Linked DNA regions of Homo sapiens: region 2 is linked to region 1. A link means that fine-mapping ties the variant in region 1 to the expression of a gene that starts in the linked region. Tissue or cell type: monocytes. Region 1 holds a variant in brackets; the other region holds the start of a gene. All regions are shown on one strand. Distances are between the middles of the regions.

What was found. PIP is the estimated chance that this variant, and not a neighbour inherited with it, causes the effect.
Region 2: it holds the start of SH3PXD2A, and the variant in region 1 is fine-mapped to the expression of SH3PXD2A in monocytes (CEDAR, PIP 0.95).

Annotation. Positions count from the first base shown.
Region 1 is chr10:103,694,701-103,702,805 of GRCh38, reverse strand. All of the region lies in intron 5 of SH3PXD2A (SH3 and PX domains 2A), which reads left to right. Among named protein-coding and RNA genes, the nearest start is that of SH3PXD2A-AS1, 48 kb to the left of the region's middle. RefSeq lists a cis regulatory region at 6,163-6,173, enhancers at 6,096-6,240, 6,676-6,785, 6,350-7,096 and a silencer at 6,406-6,465. The variant C/T (reference allele first, on the strand shown) is at 3,448.
Region 2 is chr10:103,850,613-103,858,717 of GRCh38, reverse strand. It overlaps SH3PXD2A (SH3 and PX domains 2A), which reads left to right and starts at 3,142. Exons shown (of 15, transcript NM_001394015.1): 1 at 3,142-3,523. The coding sequence starts at 3,452.

The DNA.
Region 1 (8,105 bases):
ATGTGATCCTCAGGCACAGAGCTGGTGCCACAGCCTTCAGGGAGAATCTCTCTTTAGGAATACTGCCGCTGGGTTGTTCTCAGCAACTTCCTTCTAAAATCTGAGCTGCTTCCTCTGGGGCTCAGTCCAGCCCCAGCTGCCTGTCCTGCTCCCCCAAGACATACAGCCTTCTTGCCCTCCGCACCCAGCATGCACACACACACACACACGCACACACACAGGCTTACATCTGTTCCTGCCCCTGCACCGTTGCTCACACCATCCCTTCCACCCCAAATCTCCTTCCTGCTTCTGCTCTTTTTAAACAGTCTTCATCTTTCAAGGGCTAGCTCTAGTGCCCCATCTTCCACATAGCCCTCCCTGACCACCCCAGACCACTCTGATCTCCCTGTCCTGGAAATTTCTATACAGTGTTTCCTTTGACCAAGCTTTGGGGCACCTGATCACAAGGGAACTTGTATGTTGTCTTTTCGTGGGTGTTTGCCATCTCTTTCCAGCTAGATGGACAAAAAAATGAAAAAGAGGGCAGGACAGTGTGTCTTCTGCCACTCTCTTACTTCATACACAAGACTGGGTCTACAACAGACCTTCAGTCAAGATGTGGATGGATGGTGGATGAATGATGGATGGATGGATGGTGGATGGATGGTGAATGGATGATGGGTGAATGGTAGATGAATGATGGATGGATGATGGATGGATGGCTGGATGATAGGTGGATGGATGATGGATAGATGGATGGATGATGGTGGATGGATAGATGGATGATGGATGGTGGATGGATGATGGTGGATGGATAGATGGATGGATGGATGGATGGTGGATGGATGTTGGATGGATGGTAGATAGATGATGGATGGCTGGATGAAGGATGGATGGATGGTGGTTGGATGATAGATGGCTGGATGGTGGATGGATGGATGGATGATAGATGGATAGATGGTAAATGGATGGTGGATGGATAGATGGTAGATAGATGATGGACAGATGGATGACTGGATGAAGATAGATGGATGGATGATGGATGGTGGATGGATGGCTGGATGGATGATGGACGGATGGATGGCTGGATGAATGATGGATGGATAAATGATGGATGGATGGATGGCTGGATGAATGATGGATGGATGGATGATGGATGGATGGTGGATGGATGGATAGATGATGGATGGATGGTGGATGGATGGATGATGGATGGATGATGGATGCATGATGGATGGATGATGGATGGATGAATGGATAGATGATGGATGGGTAGTGGATGGATGGATGGTGGATGGATGGATGATGGATGGATGGATGAATGGATGGATGATGGATGGATGATGGATGGATGATGGATGGATGATGGATGGATGAATGGATAGATGGTGGATGGATGGTGGATGGATGGATGGTGGATGGATGGATGATGGATGGATGATGGATGGATGAATGGATAGATGATGGGTGGATGGTGGATGGATGGATGGATGAATGGATGGATGATGGATGGATGAATGGATGGATGATGGATGGATGAATGGATAGATGATGGATGGATGGTGGATGGATGATGGATGGATGATGGATGGCTGGATGGTAGATGGATAGATGGTAAATGGATGATGGATGGATGGATGGATGGTGGATGGATGGATGGATGGATGGATGGATGGATAGTGGATGGATGATGGATGGATGATGGATGGCTGGATGGTAGATGGATAGATGGTAAATGGATGATGGATGGATGGATGGATGATGGATGGATGGATGGATGGTGGATGGATGGATGGATGGATGGTGGATGGATAGATGGATAGATGGTAAATGGATGATGGATGGATGGATGGTGGATGGATGGATGGATGGATGATGGATGGACTTGGAGAGAGTCAGGGAAGGTCTTTAAATATAGGATATCCTCCTTGACCTTCTCCTCAGGGACTTCATTGTTGAACCCCATCACCCCATTTTGTCACTCCCCCTCCCATGGTTCCCTAGGTCTGGCATGTAGCCCCTGGAAGTCCAGGGAACCCCCATAGCCAAGAACAGTCTGGCATTTACACAGGGAGCAGGATCTCAGGTGGCCTGAGGAGGAGCTCCTAGCACTCCATGGCAGTGGGCTGAACTGGCAATCCCCTGCCCCATTTTGCCCTCTAAGAAATCAACTGTGTATTCCTGCCATCCTCCCCACTTCCCCTAACCCTGCCTCCTCCCACTCCCATGGACTGCTGCTCAGTGTCACCATCTAGGTGGGACTCCTTGGAATGCACCTGATGGGAACCCAGGCCTGTCTGTCATCATGGTCCTGCATCAGTGCCCTGAGTGACAGAGCCAGGGTCTCACACAGGCCACACTGAGAAGGTAGGCAGTCAGCACCTCCTGCATTGCGGCCACCATCCACACTCCTAGTCTAGCCCCCTGTGAACCCAGGCTATTGGGCTACGGGTCCTTTCCATGGGCCAGATGCCATTTAAGAGCTTTGCACATTATCCCATGTAATCCCCACGACAGCTCTGTAAGATAGCAACTATTTTAACCCCCTTTTACAACCGAAGGTACAGAGAGGTGAAGTCACTTGTTTATATCACAAAGCACTAGGTGGCTGAACCAGGGTTCTAACCCACCTGCCCTTTTAACTCCCTGCTCTGAGGCCTGGACATGGTAAAACTTGTCCTGTGGCTGAAGACACACTTAGGGCCTTTGCCCAGAATAGTGGAACAAGTCAGAGGAGACAGACAGACAGTGCTTTGTTCTTTTGCTGTGGACAGGGCAGCAGCAGAGACCCTCTGGGATGTTCAGGAGACAAAATGCCTGGGGGGCGGGGTTCTGGGGTCTATGATGGCCATAGCATCTGGCCTCTCTGGGATGCAGCCTGGGGAGCCCCAAGACCCCTTCTCTCCGCAGGAATTCAGCTTTTTCACCCAGGGCAGGAATTCCGGCCCCTCTGGACAAGCCACATGGTCACAATGGGGTCCATTCTCAGAACCCTGGAAAACACAGGCCCTGCGGAGAAAGGACAGATTCTTGTTAAACACAAGGGCCCTCAGTGCCACGATTTAGATCAGGGAGCAAATGGGGGCAGAGAATGGCCTGCAGGCCCCTCTGTCTGTCTTGCCTGGAGGTTGCTGCCTCTGGAGGCCATTCCGTGCAAAGGCTCTCAAAAGCCAGAACAAAAACCCAGCTAGGGGCTAAGGGGTGGAAAAAAAACCCCAACTCTCCAGACCTCAGTGACCCAAAGCCCCTTCGCCCAGCCCTTTGCTCAGACCTTCCTCACTTGGTTTCTGGAAGAACATGCTCCATCTCACTATGGAGGTTTCACAGATAATTCGAATTCTCACAATAGCCCTGTGAGGACACTCAGAGTAGCCTCCTGTTAGGACTGGGGAATCCGAGGGCTCCTGCCACAGTGGGAAATATCACACTGCAGCTCGATACGCAGACAGACATCTGATGCAGGTG[C/T]CACAAAACAGCCTTGCCAGGGGTGACTCGCTGATCATTTCTAGTCTGTTCTTCTTAAAATGCTCATTGGGACCATTAAATTGATTCTGAAACTCACTAATGGGTCACTGCCTGTCATTTGAAAAGCACTAGTTTGAAGTGGCTTGTCCAGGGTCACCAGCCCCTGAGGGGGCAGAGCTGGGCCCAGAACCCGGGTCTGTGGACATTCAGCACTGGACTTTGACAGCCCCTCTCCTGCCCCCAACCCCCAGCTGTCAACCTCTCCTCTTAACAAAATTTTCCTCCAGCCAGGATCTGACCAAATCACTCCCCAATTCTGCAAACTTCTGGATTTCACAGCCAGACATCAAAGCCCTGCTCAGCCTTGCCTTTCCTGGCCCGTCCACCCACTACCCTCACTGCCCAGTCCACAACTGTTTGGAGCTGCTTGCTCCTGCTTGTAGAGCTTTCCCCCTGCATCCCTCTATGGATCCAAACCCCCTTGTCCTTTAAGGCCTCCTCCTCCAGGAAGCTACCTGGGATGTTCTGTAGCCCCCAGGACCTCTCTTTTCTCTGCACTGAGTGTAACCCCTCCTGTAATTCTCAGCGTGGATTGTCTGAGAATGTTGGCTTTCTCGTTGGACTTATGTCACATATATCTCTTCTGCCTGCCTGCACAGGCCTTAATGAGGTTGCCTACAGCGAGAGCTTAAAAAGTGCTTTTAGGTTGATAACAGCAGTCAAAATCATTATGTACCTCAAGAGCCCCACGTCACTCCCCTGGCCAAGGTTGCATCTTCTCCAGCCCTCATATTCTAGATAGTGCCCATGTCCCCAGTGACTGCTGGGCTCTGAAGGTCACCCCCAAGTCAGCTGTCTGGCAGCCCAGCCGGCCTCTTGAGCAGTTCCCAGTGGCTGTAGGCCCCGCAGACAGGCATCCTGGGCCCAGCAGCCAATGTCAGCTGGCAGACAGAAGGGTGAGAACATCAGGCTGGAAGTTTGTGTGTGTGTCCTTCTCTGCCAAGGCACTTGCCAGTGGGAGGGAGAGTGGTGAGGGGTGTGGCGGGCAGTGGAGGGTACAACCCTGCAGCATTCAGCAGAACTCCACCTGGCAGGTACTCAGCACCCTTCCACAGAGCCGGCCCAGCCAGGCCCAGCCCCCTTTCCTCTCTCTCCCGTGCCTCAGTGGCTCTTCCTGGCTTCACCTCTCACTCTGGGAACTCTGAACGGCAGGATGGCAATCTCCATTCCCCAGCGAGGGCCTGCTGCCCGCTGCTGGTGTGACCTCTCCTTGTGGCCAAATCCCTAGTGGGCCTCAGCGTGGCCCCTTTGGAGCATTGTGGGTCAGGGCTGTCTGTTTAGCTTCAGGAGCCTGGGCCAGCCACTGAAGCCTCAGACCTCAATCTCCTCATCCATGAAATGGGTGAGCACCTGCTCTGCCTACTTCAGAACACCAAAGAATAAATCCTGGGAGTTTTCAAGGGGAAGGCAGAGTGTGGGGAGCCATGTGTCAAAACAGGGGAACAACACATGTGAATTGTTCAGTGCCTTTCCTGCCCCCACCAGCCTCTCCCTGTGCAGTCTCCAACACCAGCCATTTCACTAGAGCATCCGGGGAGGGAGCACAGCGTGTCTGGCCAAGATAAAATGAAAGGAAAAAAGAAAAACCCTTTCGGGTCTACATTAGCATAAAAATGCAAGCCCTTTACATCTCTTGGTTTTGGGGCTCTGAGAGTTGGCCACTCCTTGGGAGGTTAAATGTGTCCTAATAGAGGGGTCCAGAGGCGTGCGTCCATTCCTGTGGGTCAGGGATGAACACACTTCCTGGTGCTCGGCGCTAGACAGAGACCAGTGGTTGTTCTGGCATTTGCGAAAGCCCAAAACTCTGAAAGTGGGGCTGGAATCACACCTGCCTGGCACTGTCTGCCAGCATCGTGGTGAGGTCCTTAAGGAGAAGCTCCTTTTGTTTCAGGGGCTCTGTAGGACCCAGGTTTAAACAGGTCTTTGCCACCTGTGTAGCAACTGAGGTGGGTCAGATGGGCCCAGGTATGAAAGAATAACAACAAAGACAATTTATAGCAGTTTCTGTGCCGGCCACTGTGCGAAGCCCTTTCTACACACTGTACATTGCATCTTCCCCAAACCCCAGGGGTTTGGTGCTATTATTGTCCTCGTTCTACAGATAGAGAAGTAGAGGCTCAAGAGGCCAAGAAAGTAGATCAAGGGCACCCCCCTGCCCCCACTGCAAGCAGCAGGGATTTGAACTGGAGGCCTCCGTCTCCAGAACCTGCTCATCCAAACATAGCTTGCATCATCCTATGGGGAGGGGCCAAGAGAGGAACCGTATCACCCGGGGATGGGGCGGGGTGGGAGTAGAGGCCCCAGGAGTCCTTGTTTAGATGGGGAGGGATGGAGTGCTGGTTGGAGGAACTCCACCCCTCTTTCCCAGCCAGGCCAGACCTGTGGACCACAGGAGATCACCCATCCCAGTTTGTCCAGTTTGAGCCCTGAAAGTCCCATGTCCCTGTTTTCCTGGGACTGTGGGTCACTGTACCTGTGGTTTGAGTCACCCCTGGACCAGCTGCAGAGAATGAATGGCTGAGTGGTCTGATGGGAGCTGTTTTAGGACACAGCTTGGGAGGCCTTTTCAATTACATTAGCCTCTGGCAACGCTAGAGGGAGATGCTAGCCCCGCCCTTCCTCCCCTCCTCTTCTTCCTGTGGCTCCCTGGCCGATATGATTCAGCAGCAAGTCGGAAGCAGGCTAGACTGTGACCTACCAGGAGTGGAGTCACCGGCAGGGTGGGGGCTGTCAGCACCAGCTCAGGGCAAGACTTGGAGCAAGGACGGAGTGTGGATTGGAGAAGGGGACTGATGGGAAGAGGGGGGGTTCTTGAGTTGTTAGGGAACTGAGCCCCAGCAGAGGGCCCTGCTGTCCTGCCAGACTGGAACTGGTTATAGGGCAGTGGGAAGTGGTCATGGTGTGAAGGGGGATCCCTGCCTTTGCGTCTTGCCCTCGTATGTGAGGGATGGGAGAGTCCCAGCCACTGGATACCTAAACTGCTTATCACCCTATTCAGCAGCTAAAAATATGAAATGGCTTTGCTAAAGGATGCCCAACTGGAAACTTCCAGAAGGTCTCCTATTAGGGCAGCGCCTGCTCGGGCAGGCCAGACACCCTGAAGGATTCAGGATTCCTCTTCGTTCCCACCATTCAGTCACAGCCTGGTGACCCCCACTGCCAGGACCTCAGCCTCCACCCCATTAACCCCATGTGCTGATCAGGCCCTCTGGGCTCTGCCTTCTACTCCTGCATCCACTACTCCAGGAAGGGGTGGTAAGTGGGCATTTGTCTTGAGCCTCAGAGCAAGGCCTGGGTTTTCTGGTCCCCAGTCCTGGTCTCACCCACTCACTATGGCCTTGAGGAAGTTGTCCGGCTTCTCTAAGCTTTGGTCTTCTCACCTGCAAGAGGAGAGCCCACACCCCCTGCAGGGAGGGACCCGGAAGTCCTCGGTGGGGAGGACTCTGAACTCTGGCTGAAGGACAGGCAGGCCAAGAGATATTTTCTAGAGGCTCCTTCAGCACTACAAGCACGTTGTTCTTACTGAGCATAAATGTTTCTTAGGGGTGGCTGGAGGCCTGATGGAGATTATGCAACACTGGAGCAGCCTCAGAATCCCCAGGGGAGTTTGTTGGAGATGCAGACCATGCAGTAGGTTGGGGTGGGGCCCTGCATCTGAATTTTAACCACTTTCTAGATGATTCCATTGAATAGCAGGCTGAGAATCACCAACCAGGGCCTGGCACAAAGGAGGCCCTCCAAGCATGTGAGTTTTGTGTCTTCCCCACTCTTTTTTTTTTTTTTTTCTTTTTGAGACAGAGTCTCACTTGTCACTCAGGCTGGAGTGCAGTGGCACCACCACAGCCCACTGCAGTCTTGACCTCCTGGGCTTCAAGCAATCCTCCCACCTCAGCCTCCCTTGTGGCTGGGAGTACAAGTGCTTGCTACCATGCCTAGCTAATTTATTTTTGGTAGAGATAGGGGGTCTCACTATGTTGCCTAGGCTGGTCTCAAACTCCCTGTCTCATAGGAACAGCCTGGGTAGCCTCAACCTGCTCAGAGCTGGAGAAGGCAGCCATTCCTGTGAGGCAGCCACCCCTGCCTGGGCTACTGGCAGCCAGGGGGATGGTCAGTGGGCCATCAGTCCTGGGCTTCTCCTGCCAGGACCAGCAGGAAAATTGTGGGACAGCAGAGGGTAGCTCCTCAGTGCCCTCACTCCCTGCCCTTCCCCAGTAGCCCTCAGTGAAAAGGCCTGAAAAGCTAATTTCCTCCTTGGGAGTGGAAAGTCTTCTGGGCAGGACACAGCTACGATCTAATACTCTCCTCCTCCTCTCAGGAATTCCCTGCACAGTTGAGCTTTTGGGGGGCACAGCTAGGACTCAGTCTCTGCCCAGTCTTCCTTCTGCAAGGGGGGCAAGCATGCCTTTGTTAAGGCCTTCCCTGGACTGACTGGTGGGAGCCAGGGGAGGGGGCAAATGGAAGCTCTCCCACCTTTCTGTAGTCCCTTTCCAAGGCAACGGTTTCCCAGATTCTCCTCCACACCATCCACGCTGCAGTTTTTATTCCTTCCAGTGGGCTTATAAACCACAGCCCTTCCCCAGATTGGGCAACCTTCGGCA
Region 2 (8,105 bases), 160 kb before region 1:
TGGGGGTGGTCACAAAGACCCTACATGGGAGAGGAGGTAGGGCGGGTTCTGCTTTAGGGGAGCTGATGGAATTTGCACGTACACAGAGGACCATGGAGACACACACGGCCTCTGCTCTAGAGGATTGTACAGTCCTCTTTATTGGGAAGTCCAGGCATCACGAGTTCATATGCTTGTGTGAATGGAGAACTGGAACCAGGGACTCCAGGGTTTGAGTGAATGCAACATTCTAGACCTGCAGGTGTGCTAAGTGTGCCCTTTAAACAAGCTCTTCTTGCCCTAGTATAGGCACATAAATGTGGAGGGGAAAGACAGCGGGCTTTGGACTAACTGGCTATGTGGCATCAAGCAACTTGCTTAGTTTTTCTTGGCCTTGGTTTCTTCCTCTGTAAAATAAGAGAAATAAATAACCTCTCTTGTCCCTTCTAGTTGGAAAGTTCTTTGATTCTAAGCATTCTACAATTACCTGTTTTCGAAAATCAGATTTTCAGGTATCAGTTTGCATCTTTATGTTGGCTTCTCTTTCCCTTACTTATCCTAAACTTAAAAAAAAATTTGCAATTATATTTTGTCATTTTTAACTCACACAATGTCCTTAGGTTGGAGTCATCTCCAGTTCATGGGCGGAGGTGGCAAAATAGGGGTTTCTCTAATCCTTTCTAGCACTAGCTCTTTGAGCAGATGTTTTCAACACAGGCCATCCTATATACCTACTGTGTGCCACGCATAGTTGGGGTATTTAATGAATGATGCACAGTCCTTGTTTCCAAGGAAACTTCCCCCAGTCTCTGTCATTTTTGGGGGATTGCCAGGCACATGTGAGGCATTCAATAAATGTGTATTGAACAGAAAGGAATTCCCAAGGCACTGTGGGAAATAAATCTGCATGAGGTTGAAATGTACCCAGAGAAGAGATAGCCTGCACCATTTCATACTTAAATCCCCTTGGACATACGGCCCCAGTACAGAAAAGACATTTTTCTCCCACAGGTAGAAATAACTTCTGCCCAGATCTTGGCACCATGGGGTTGAGTGGGGAGCACTCAGTTGCTCCCTCCAATAAAGGTAATTACGGAACAAAGGGGGAAGTTGGGAGTATGCTCAAGTCAGGCTTAAAGGCCTGAATTTATAAAATGTCAAGTTGCAGGGAGTCTTTTAGGCAGGAGAAAGGCTACCACTTTGTAGGCCGCTAGGAAGTGGGGAAGAACTGGGCCCTCTCTCCTACAAATTTATTGTGCTTGGTGTGTTCATTGTGGATCTGGGTCCGAAAGAAGGGTAATAAGGAAACCACTAGTGCTGTTTTAGATGAGCTGACTGCTTTGATTCACAAGGGGACCCAAATCAAACTAAACCCCCTCCTCTTCTTCCCCCCACAACAGCTAAACACCAGCTCCCCTCGCTGGTGGCTTCTCAGGTTTTATTAGCACTTCCAGAAGACTTTGCCATCCACAGAAGACGAGTTATCCGAGAGCCATGATGAATCTCTTCCTCACAAACTCACAGGCTGTCTTGATCCATCATCAGAGAGGACCTGGAGCTGGCCAGCACCCTCCCAAGTTCGGGAGCTCAATATGGAGGGCCCGTTCCAGGTCTACCTCTCATCCCTTCAGGGAATAATCCTTGCTCATGGAGGTAGTGCCCTGTCCTCCCATTTTCCCATCAGCTGAGCAACATTACCAGGTGCACCTTCCCCCAGGACTCCTGCTCCAACATTCACAAAGGTTTTCTGTCATCTTCTCTGACCAAGAAGCTCTGGCCTGGTGCCAAGATCTCTCACAGTCTGAGCCCCCTAGGCCCATCCATCTTTTTTTTTCTTTGTCCCGTGCCATCGTTTGGTGTCCTAGCGCCCTTCCCCAGGAAGGTTGGAGGAATAGTGGGTTACTCTGTATGGAGCAAATATGTGAATAAATAAAGCCTTAGATCTGTGCCTGGGTTCTGACAGTCTAGAGAACGCGCAGAAGAAAGTATTAATGCAATTAGGTCACAAAATTATTTGTCCTCTTTTCAGATGTTTCACATTGGTCCACAGTCACAAAGCTTTATTGTGATTGTGTAACAACTGGAGTAGTTGTGAAAACACTACCCTTTAAATGTTTGAAAGCAGAATGGGAAAAAAATGTTGAACTAGAAGGGGGGAAGCTACATTGAATTAAGTAGTAACTGTGCTCCAAGTCCAGGGACCACGGACAAGTGGCTTGGAAAGTGGGTTTTCCAGACTAGAGGGAGGGGTGAGAATGCCAGAGCCTGGGGCTCACGGTGAGCTGGCCTCCAACCGGGTGGGTTTTCCCACCATTGTATGCTCCTTTCCCTGTCGCCAGCTTGGGGAGGGTCCCCAGGGGAGCCCTGGGCTTAAGGCAGTGGTGTTATGCAGAGTCTGTAACGTTGTCATTGGTAAATGATGCACAGGGTAGTTACACAAGCCCAGATCGATGGACGACTCAGGCAACGAATCGATCACTTTTCCGGGGAGAATTCACCCTTTATGACCTGCAGAGGGTCAGGTGGTTCGTCCAAAGAGGCTCTGGCTTGAAGGATTTAAAGCTGGCCTTTTCCCCATTCCCATCTCCTCCTCGGGGGCCTGGGCAGTAACAGCCGGGTAATAAACTACTTCTCATTAAAGAGATCTGGGGGTGGAAGTTGTAGGGGGACATAAAAGTGGGGACAAAAAGGCACAAATCCGCTCCGAGGCGGAAAGCCAGGATGGGGGCGCGCGGGGCTCACTTTCCCCGCTCCCTCTCCCCCCGAAGCCACCCTGAGTTTTTGTGCCTAGCGAACTAGCCCGGTGCTGCGCCAGGCCGCTGGCTGCGCGCTGGGCTCGGGTGGGGGCTCGTCGGCCCGCCCCTGCCACTGGGGCCGGGCTGCAGCCCCCTCCCCGTCGCCCCGAGCCCCTCCCCCGGCCCGGAGCCCCTCCCCGCGCGCTTCCCCTCTCTCCCCTCCCTCCCTTCCCTTCCCTGCCTGCCAGGCCCTGCCTCCGCCTCCTGCGCCCACAGCCTCCGCCAGCGCCGATCCCCCCGGAGCCCGAGCCGGAGAGCGGCGAAGGGGAGCCGCCGGCCCCTCCCCAGGACGCTGACAGCAGGCTCCGGGGCCCCCGCCCCGTCCCCTCGCCGACGGGACACACCCCCGCCCCTCCTCTGCTCCGCCAGTTCCCGCCGGACCCACCGGGCGGCGGAGAGAGCGAGCGGGCGAGCGCAGCGCGGCGGCCGCGCGGGAGTGAAGGGGCGCGCGGCAGGCCGGCGGGGAGTCCCCCGGGGCGCACGGAGCCCGCGCGCCCTCCGGGACCCTCCCCCGTCCCTGGGCCGGACCTGTGGGCGCCGGGAGTCCGGGCAGCGTTCGGCGCGCCGGGCCGGGGTGGCGGGCGGCCCCGGGACCCCGGCAGCTGGAGAAGGAGCCGGAGCCCGGCCGGGATGAGAAGGTGACGCCGCCGGGGGCGCCACTCGCTTTGTGGGGGAAGATGCTCGCCTACTGCGTGCAGGATGCCACCGTGGTGGACGTGGAGAAGCGGAGGAACCCCTCCAAGCACTACGTGAGTACAGCCCCCGCCGACCCTGCTGGGGGTGGCCCGAGGTCCCGGGAGGGCCCCGGATGGCCCCTTGCCCCTCCCAGCTGTGAGGTCGCGAAGCTAAGCGCCCACTGGGCAGCCAGCAGCCGTGGAGTTTCTTCGCAGGGCTGTGATCTCCAGGGAAGCCTCTTCTGTCCTTCCTCCTTCGCACCCCCGCCCCCCCGGTTTCTTTTTTTGGCATTGGAATTGGCAAGTGGCTGCCCTTGTCTGTTACAACGGTGAAGTCATCTGTCCGCCTTTGATGGATGGTGGGGGGAGCTTTCGTCAACCCCTCACAGAGCAGCCCCGTCGGGAAAGCGCATCTCCTCGGCCCTCCCCAGGGGCCCTGGGCGCTCACGCTCACACAGCCCGAGATGCTTTCAGAGCTCGCCCTGGAGAAGGAAGCCTCGCGCCCTGCCTCCCACGCCAGCTCTGTCTCTGCCTTCCTAGGCCTGGGGCTGGGGGCAGAAGGAAGCCGCCGCCCCCTTGCCCAACCTCCACCCTCCGCGCTAAGCTTTGATTTCCCTCATAAAGCCATTGTGTCCGTCGGTGTGAGGAGAATTGTGGCTTTTCCTTTTATCCCTCCTCTGGACGTGACCCTTAACCGGGTTCATTTCCTCTTAAGTGATGCTCCATCTCCAGACACGAGGAGGCGAATGTTTGCTGTGGTCTCCGAGGAACCGCCCCTCCCCCTTCCTCCCCCAAACTTTAATGAGAAGGGGTTAAGGTTGACTGGGGCAGCTCCAGAGCCTATGTGACAGTTCCCCTTTCATCTCAGCCGGTCCTGTCTTCCCATCCCTCACACCTTAGGAAGTAAACACGGTGTCCTTGACCCCTCTGAGCGTCTGTGCTCCTGTACTTGAGATAGAAGAGACCCAAGCACAGAGGACTGCATGTTATTTGCAAATTGGGTATTTAGAGGAGCAGTTCCAGTGCTCAAAGCATTAATCTTAACAGTTAAAACAGGCGCTGGTTGCTGCCCTGGATTGTACATTGATCTCTGAAGTGCCTTTTCTTCCACTGTTGCAAAGGGACTGGGGTTTGTGGCAATGTCAGCCTCGGGCTACTCTTTTTGCCTTTGTCACCAGTGTAGCTCTGAACTTTGAGTTTCTTTACAGCTGAGCAAATGCGGCTGGGCTCATATGGGGAGGAGGTAAATGTGGAGGCAGGTTGACTAGGCAGGGAGGTGGGTGCCTGTCGGGTCCAGTCCCTGACACCCTTAGAGAGTTGTTTCTTTTGTGTCATCTGGTCCAGCAAGCATTTTCTGCTGCTGTTACAAGAAAGCTCTTTTTGGAGGGCTTGGGTCACCAGGTGGTCAACCTGCTCTGTGGACAGATGTCCCTTTGTATATCCCAGGGTTTATTTTTCTCAAATGTTGCAGGCTAAGTTTTAAGGGTTCTCATTTGTAGTCCTCAGCTGAGCTTGGCACTGCATTCAACAGATGGCACTCTGCTCTGAGACCCAGGCAGGTGCGTTTCCAACTCTGGATTTTAAATGAAACATCACATTTCAGCTCCCACCGATGGTGCCCAAGGTTGCAGATGCAGGACACACTGGTAACAAACTAGAACCGGGGCCCACTGCAGACAGGATTGAAAGGCAAGATTGCGTGCTGGGGTTCTGAAGTTAGACGGTCTTGCTCAAAGCCTGGCATGCAGCCAGTAACTAGCTGTGCCACCTTGGCAAGTTATTTAAACCTCCCCCAGCCTCAGTTTACTCAATTTCAAGTAAGGATAATAATAGTATGTACTTGTTGGGAGAATTAAATGAGATCATCTATGTAAAGCACTTAGCCCAGTTCCTGGCACGCAGTAAGCTCTTATTAAATGGTAGCTTATTATTGGTGAGATTCTGACTAAGAAAGTATTTTTGAAAAGCAGCTATTAATGGTCTGGCAAAAAGGAAGAAAGATTTTGGGTTTTAAGATTGATAATAACTTGTTCTATGTGAAAAACACAAAAGAAGTCCTGTCCAGTTCCCTCGAAATGATCATTTCCTTCCTTTTTACAGACAAAGTGTTTCCCGGGACATCTCCGCTTCCCGAGTAAGAATCGATGACATTATGTTTGGGGGGGCAGGGAGTGATGTCACTGAACAGATGGGGCCATGCAGAGTTCTGAACTAGAGTTCTGGAAAACACTGAGAGGAGAAAGTGTTACATGTTGTGGAATTGTGGAACGGGCAGAGACCCGAAGACTCATCTGGCTCAACTCCTTCATTTTACAGATGAGGAAATGGAGAGCCAGATTGGGTAAAGTAACTTGCAACACAGCTGCTCACAGCTGGGTTTTTTTCATTGCATGTACCCTAAGTCCAGTTGGGTTTGGCTAAGAGGACAAATAACTGGTGGTCAAAAAGTTTCTACCCATTTGGGGCATTGTATATATTAATACATAACATAAGCATATCCAATAATTGAAAGGGGGAAAGAAAGCAATAGAAAGGGCCTGGTGGGACAGACAGGGGCAGGAGGAGCGGGTTTGGGGAGGCTGCAGCCTCTTCCTCTCCTGGCCCTTGCACGGTGAATACCACACACCAAAAGCTCAAGTGTTGTGAGTAAGGCCCTCTGGTGTGGTCAGCTGGCAGGACGTGCTGCACCCATTGCCTGTGTTCTGGAAACCCTCTACACTGGAGGAGCAAGCCTCCTTCCAGCCTTTCCTCTGCTGATGGTGAATTCTGAGTCTGTGGTTTGGTAAATTGCAGAGCAGAGAGGTTTTACGGGATGTGCGTGTTAGCCAGAGCTAGCCGATGAGAGGCCTGGGGCCCACGCAGGAGGAGCTCTGCTGGCTCCAGAGTGCTGGGAACACACTGCAAAGGTTCTCTCAGGACATTCTGCAAAGGGTTTGCTCATCCCCACGGGGAGGGGGAGCTGCCTGAACACGAAGGGTCCTGTGCTTTCGGTCAGTTCATGAAGGCACGCAAGTAGCTTCCATCATGGGGATGGCACTCAGCCCTGGCTTCCTTCTTCTCTGCCAGGCCCCTGCTTGGGGTGGGGTTGAGAAGGGCAGGCAGCTGCTACTAAGGTCAGGCTCCCTGGCATGAAGCTAGGCTCCTTTCCTGGCTTTCTGAGCTGTGCCTGGGGAGACCCTAGGTAAACTGGCTTTGGCCTCTGACCGCTTGTCTTGAAAATGGTCCTGATGATGCTGGATGCAGAATGCAGATTCCTTCGTTTGAAAGTTTTTCAGTAAAGATTTGAATTCAGGTCCACCGGGTTCTTTGTGCTCACAGGCAGGTATAGGTATATATCAATTCATGTGGTAGAGAAAAGCTCGTTTATCTAAAACAAACAAGAAATTGTATCTATTTGGATTTGGGAGGTATTGCACTTTCACAGTTGTTTTATTTCCTGATTGTTTATTTCAGACAAATACCAATCATGAATGTTCTGATCCTCTGCAGGACTCTTTGGGGAATGCAAATAATAGCCAGTTTAGCAGTTACCATCGATGGTGAAACATACTTAACACTCGTGTTTTCGTGTGATTCCTGCAGGTCATTGAATGTACCCTAATGTGGGGTAGGTTTTTGGATTCTGTTTTACAGATGAATTAACTGCAACTTGGAGCAATTCACCAACTTGCTTAGGGTCTCGCAGCTGGCACAGGGCAGAGCTAGGGCAATGCAGGTCAGGTTAGCTCCAAAGGAGGATGTGGATATAAGGTGGGGCCCTTCTCTTCAATTAGAATCCGGGCAGGAAGGCCAGGCTCAGCCCTGTTCCATGGTGACAGAGCAGTACAGGGTTGTCTTTAGGACTGCCTCACTGTAGAGACATCTACCATGTGCCCTGCAGGTGAGTTCATGGTGGGCAACGCAGGCGGGTCACTGTGAGGCAGGAGGAGTAGAGCAACTTCAGGCTGGTATCTGGTCCCCAGTAATGCTTAGGGTAATAAATTAAGGGTTGACCTTGTGGACATAATATATTCTTCCTCTGTTTAGATCATCCCAGATTTTATTCTTGGTCCTGGGAGCTACATGCTTAGGAATTGGCCCCAAACTCATTCATTTCTGTGCCCTTCTTTTTTTTTTTTTTTCTCAGCCCTTAGATTGTGACTCCAGCCCCACAGGAATGAGAATGTGCAGCCACAGCCTGCAAGGGTCTTTTTCAGGGCCAGTTCCATTATGGAATGAGTATGGTGTTGGGCAGATCAGTGCTTGAATCCTACCTGTGGCACTTCCTAGTTGTGCAACCTTGGGCTGTCACTCTGAGCCTCAGTCTCCTCACCTGTAACTTCACAGGGCTCTTGGGAAGTTGGCCTGAGATAATTTGGGGTAGTGTCTACCCAGTGCCTGACCTCACCATGGACATGCACCATATACTAGTTGCCATCTGCTGTTCCTGATCACCAAGGCACTGCAGGTGATTTAGGACCCAATCGGTCAATCTGAGAGAAAAGGAAAGACTGAGGCAAGAAGGACGGCCCAGCTTTTCACAGTCTGATGGGGAAGTGGGTTACACGCCCCATGGAAAACACCCAGCCTCCAAGAGGAACAGATAAACACAGAGCAGCTGTTCAGACCTGGAGGGGTTCCTGGAGCTGAGCATTGGGATCTGGTGGTGGCTTTCTGG